Linked DNA regions of Homo sapiens: region 2 is linked to region 1. The links come from fine-mapping of genetic effects on gene expression. A gene starts in region 1. The other region holds a variant in brackets. All regions are shown on one strand. Distances are between the middles of the regions. Region 1 holds the start of LRRN3 (leucine rich repeat neuronal 3). Region 2 overlaps IMMP2L (inner mitochondrial membrane peptidase subunit 2).

Region 1 (2,931 bases):
AAATTAACCCACACTGAATTCCATGAATCATCAATACATGGATGCTCATAGAGTTTACTGAGAGTAATTCTGTCTCAAAGGCATTGCTTCTGAAACTAAAGATGAGAAATATATCAGTAATATTTATGGTACCAGAGCACACTATTTTCTAGGTAGATATTTTGAACCTTTACTTCTATTTTTGTTTTCACATTATCCCCTTTTCACTAAATTAGGACGGTTCTACTCATATTCATAGCCTGCTTTCACTGAAATTAGAGGCAGAGAAACAAGGACATATTGTTAAAAATGAATAAATTAGAGCCGAATTAAGCCATCCAGCTCAACAACAGCAAAGGGAATATAGCAGTTGGTTAGAACAAACAATTTTCTTAAATAGGAAATGTACTTTAAAGCCATCCTGCTGTGATCCTGTTAATTACCAAAGATTAGAACTCTTCTGGTTCATGGGATCCTTTCACCTAGTGTGTGGCAGTTCCAGCTGCATTAGCAATCAGACATTTGCACTGTCCCTTCAGACCAGCGAGGGGATGTTATTAAAGGGAAGTCATTTACCCCAGTCCGTAAGATGTAGCCTGGCAGAAATTCAATAACTGTTTGTGATATGCTCATTCTGCTACTCTGCTTAGTGGTTTAGCTCTTAACATACAACAGCATTTGCCTTAATTTGCATCCACTGGATGAGACAAAATAAAAATGCCCCATTTGGTGGGTTGATTTCAAAACAGAGAATAATGTGTGATCTGCTTTTCACTACAAATAATGTGAAGAAAAAGGAAAATTGCACCCCATCACCCGTGACTCTCCTCTCCTCTCTGTCTCCTCTCTGTCTTCTCTCTTCCCCATCTCCTTCTCTCTCCCTCTCCTCCTCTCTTCTCCCCCACTGTTCCCTTCTCTTCTGTCTCCCTCCTTTTTCTCCTCCCCCCAACACTGCTTTTTCTCTCCCACTCACATCCTCTAATGGGCATTCAAGCTAGTAAAATGCATGTTGGAGAATCTCACAAACACAGCTAGGCACACACAGAGCCAGCTGGGTTTTGCATGTGAATTTCTTCTCAAAAGTGCAATAAAAGAAAAATGCTCTTAGAATTCAGACAAGAAGAAGACATCAAAGGAGGATTTAGGTGTAAAAACATGATCATCGAAGAGACAAGAAATAGAACGTATTTTAAAATATATGTGTATTTTAAACTTACCTTGAAAAGCAGTTTCAGTGCTAGCCCACCTCCGATGTCCTTGCGTGCTGGATTCCTCAGTTCCTTGGTTGAGATAATCACATGGTTGTGTTCTTGCCCGGTATAAATAGGTGCATTTGTGTGTCTGTGTAACAAAGTGTACAAAATATATACTATAGATATGCACACATGCACGCAATCTTATCTCTCTATTTTAAAATATAAAGGAAGGCAGGAGGCTGCAGCCGGGATTCCTTCTTTTTCCTGGAACTCTTTTTCTCAGTCGGCAGGCTGAGGCTCTCAATCCAGTGAAGAGAGATCCTGTGAGCTGGCTTTATTTTTCCTTGTTTCCATGGTGGTTAGTGGTGCATCGTTCACCCGATCAGTTGTCACACTGACATGGTGCTGCCTGCTCAGCGGTCATTAATAACTGAACACCCTCCACTCCCCAGAGAGGAGCCAATCGCTTCAGACAGCCAAGATGTAGCACTCGCAGCTGCTCCAGTCTGGTTGGCTGAAACAAACTGTCTGTTCTATGACACTGCTGCTTAGGATACAAATAAATGAAACAGGCTTGCATGTTTTCCTAGGTATCATTTTCCTTCTTTTTTTTCCTTTCTGAGGGAATGTTGGGAATTTTTGACAAGTTTTCTCAATTTTAGGTTATCAGTCATTCAGAGAAATATGTTTTCAGTCTGCAAATAGAGAGGACACACTACTGATAAGGATTTCCTAAATATTAAAAACACCTGGTAGAGACTCAAACCTCCAACTCCGTCTCTGAAGTTCAGCAATGACTGCATTATTTAAGAAGAGAAGCTTGCAACTGTTTTGAGTGGCATTTGGTTCTCTATAGATCCTACTTAATTTAGCATATGTGCTTGGTGTTCAATAACACTTTTTTTTTTTTTTTTTTAGCAATGACATTTCTTGTCTGGATTGACCAGATTTTTAAAATAAAGCATATATTTGCCTCTCTGTAATTCACAACATTGGCATTTGAGGGGGTACTTTTTAAAAATATGTATTTCTAATTATACTCACTGACTTCTCTTTATATGATGTAATAAATCTAGGAGCTACATATGAATGGGTACATGTGTAGGTGTGTTTGTGTATCTGTGAGTGTGTGTGTGTATTTAGGATGTATTTTTTACCACTCTGGGGAAATATTTCGATTGTAATAAGTTAAATTATTTAAAAGACTATCTTTATTCTTAGGCCTATTAACTCTGAAAGGATATTTCCCAGGAAAATATACTATATAAGCCATACATGTAAAACATTTTTATTAATTACCAGAAATTTGGAAAACACAGAAACACATAGCAGTGCATATTTCTGAAAGAACATACATGAAAAATCAAAAAGCAGTTTTAAAAATGCATGTTTTACAACCTTAATTAGTATACTAGAGAAACATCTTGTTGAGGAGAATGGAACATGAGGATTAATATATCAACAGGTCAAAAGCAGGCTAGTCATGACTCCAACCCCAGTTTTGAGAGACTACCCTCTAGTGGAGTAAAGAGAAATGGCACTTATTAGATTTACTTAGGAAAAAAAAAACAAAACCTTCACATCTAATTGCTCCTTAAGTGCTTATTGACATGACATAGAACAATAGTTTGCAGTTATTATAATAATAATAATACCAGGAAAAATTTTAAACAGTAGGCTTGTCTTTAAATACTGAATATTTTCACTCTGTAGTTTTCTAGAAACAGTTCCCAAATGTTTTTTTCTATAAGAATTT
Region 2 (2,931 bases), 78 kb after region 1:
TGGGTGTGGGATGATATCTCACTGTGGTTTTGATTTGCATTTTCACAAGCTTGTTGGCCATTTGTATGTCATATTTGCAGAAATATCTATTCAAGTCCTTTGCCAATTTTTAGATGGCTTATTTGGTTTTTTGTTGTTGTTGCATATAAGAGGTTTTTGAATATTCTTTATATTAGCCCCTCATCAAATATATGATTTTTTTTCCCATTCCATAGATTACCTTTCACTCTGTTGACTGTGTCCTTTGATGCACAAAAGTTTTAAAGTTTGATGTAGTTCCATTTGTCTGTTTTTGCTTTTGTTGTCTGTGCTTTTCATTTCATATCCAAGAAATCATTCCAAAAGCCTTTTAAATAGTCAACTTATGATAAAAACAGAGTTCAGTGATTCAAAGATTAATCCAGGAGTCATTTATATTTGCATTTAAAATGTAATTTGTACATACATAAGTGTGTGTGTATGTGTGTGTGTATATATATATACACACACAATTTTTTTTTCTTTTGACACAGAGTCTCACTCTCCTGCCAAAGCTGGAGTGCAATGATGCAATCTCGGCTCACTGCAACCTCTGCCTCCCAGGTTCAAGCAATTTTCGTGCCTCAGCCTTCTGAGTAGCTGTGATTACAGGCATGCGCCACAATGCCTGGCTAATTTTTGTATTTTTGGGGTTTTGCCATGTTGTCCAGACTGGTCTCAAACTCCCGGCCTCAAGTGATCTGCCTCCCTCGGCCTCCCAAAGTGTTGGGATTATAGGCGTGAGGCACCACACCTGGCCTGTTTGTACTTATATTTGATTATGGATATGCCTACTTTTCTGAAAAGTAATTGCCAGCAAAATAATGAAGTTTTGCTGTGAATATATGACTTGAGAAGCTGGAAATATGTCCAGTTTTCCTGACTTGACCCCTAGGTCAAGACCTCCTTGATATGAGGGAACTTTTTACATGTTTGTCTTTCAAAGAATTTTCTTGGTAAGATGAAAGCTATATGAGGTGGTAAACCAGACTTGTTTTTTAAAAAAGAAAAAAAAAATAAGCAGTCTACTTAATGTTTAATCAAGATATACCACAGATAAACTAAACGAATAAAAGATATACATAATTAAGATTTTACTCTATAATATTGCCTAAGTTACAGGGAATCATTCTACTTCACTGTAAAATGAATGATTTTTTCCACTTGTAGGCAAGGGGCATATATGGGAGTTTGTATGTGGGAGGAGTTAGTTTGGAGTGATGCCTGTGAACATAACCTGCTTGCACTCAAATCCTCCTCTTCTCCTCCTTCTGTGTTCCTTTTTATGTTG[A/G]ATGGCTTCCTGTTCACCCACTTACTAAAACAGAAACTTGCACACCCTCCTTCCGTTTTCATCTCCCTCACACCTCCCATCCAGGCAGTCACCCAATTCTTTCAGTCTTACCTCGAAAAGTAAGCCTGTTTCTTTCTGTCCTTATTGCTACTTTCCTTGTGCAAGACTTCATGTTCTGCCTTAAAGTGTTGTAGAAGCCTTTTCATTGGCCAGCCTGCCTGCCTTGACTTGCCTCCTTCAGTCAGAAACATATTTATAAAATATGATTTGCTCATGTCTACCTCTTACATAAAACTCTTAAGTGGTTCTCAATTGCTCTTAGTACTAATACTGAAGTTATTATCGTGGCTTATAAGGTCTTTTGCAGTCTCACACATGTTTACCACAACAGCCTCATCTGTCCTTAGGTACTTTTCCCTTATATAATCTTTATCTAGGGGTCTTCTAAGGCCCTCTCTCCTTGTTTGTTTCTCTCAGTGGATTGTGGGGTTCATGAATTTAGGAATCATACCAATCTAGCTCACTGCTATAGTTCTTGTACCTAGTGCAATGTATAATACGTCAGGTATGCAGTACAATTGTGCTGAATGAATGAAAGCTGCAGTGCACATAAGCTATATGGAAGCCCTTCCTCTTCCTAATTGCAAATTTTCTTACAATAATTTAGGATGTTCGTTATTTTCTAACTCCCAACAAGCTTGAACAAGTTCTGAAAAAATAAGATACAGTGAACCCTCTCAGCTTTCATTTCCTCATCGGCAAGTTAGGGGCTAAAGCCTTTACTAATAAATCTGTAAGCTAAAGTGATTGGACCCATTCATCTCTGAAATTTCTGTTCTGTGATCCTATAAACATGTGTCCACCCTAACTTACCTAAAACTCCAGAATAGCTACCACATATGTAATGTATAAATAGTCGCTCTAAATCTATATTTATTGGCCTTCTAAAACATAATTTCTGTTAAGGTTGGTTTAAATTTTTTTAAAAGTCAGGATTGTGTCTTTATCAACTATGTTTCATTTGCCCCTATGTTAATATCATATATAAATATTACTATATGTGAATTATTTCATTGTAAATTGAAAAAGTATAATGTAGAGGAACTGAATGCATTCATGTTTATTTGCCTAGGTGAAATTTATATTTGTTTTTATTTTATTGGCTGCATTATTATGAAATACTGTTCGCACTATAGTGAGTCATTTCTGAAAGTAATTGCAACATTGTATGAGGTACTCAAACTCCTTAAAGGAAGAATAACAATATAAATTCAAAATGATAATGGAAATAATTGCATTGTTACTCTGAAAACTCGTGCTTGGACATCTCATCAGAAATGGTGCATATGAAAATTAGCCATATCAAATTTTACCTGAAATAGCCATAGAAATTTATTTTATCCCTGTACCTTTGATCTGCATTACATTTCAGCTCCTCAACTAATAGAATTCTCTCTCCCTGTACCTTTTTTCCCACTCGAACTCCATAAATATCTGTTACTCAATATAGACAGGGGGATGAAAATGGACATACTTACCTTCTCTTGCCTTCCACACATGAGTAGAAATGGTTCTGGAAAAGTGGGCTCCAGTAATATGCTGCCCAGCTGTGAAGTCCCAGA

The links.
Region 2: its variant is fine-mapped to the expression of LRRN3 in whole blood (INTERVAL, PIP 0.94).

The regions. Positions count from the first base shown.
Region 1 is chr7:111,089,770-111,092,700 of GRCh38, reverse strand. LRRN3 (leucine rich repeat neuronal 3) reads right to left here and starts at 1,574. Exons shown (of 3, transcript NM_001099658.2): 1 at 1,197-1,574. All of the region lies in intron 3 of IMMP2L (inner mitochondrial membrane peptidase subunit 2), which reads left to right.
Region 2 is chr7:111,011,929-111,014,859 of GRCh38, reverse strand. All of the region lies in intron 3 of IMMP2L (inner mitochondrial membrane peptidase subunit 2), which reads left to right. Among named protein-coding and RNA genes, the nearest start is that of LRRN3, 78 kb to the left of the region's middle. The variant A/G (reference allele first, on the strand shown) is at 1,310.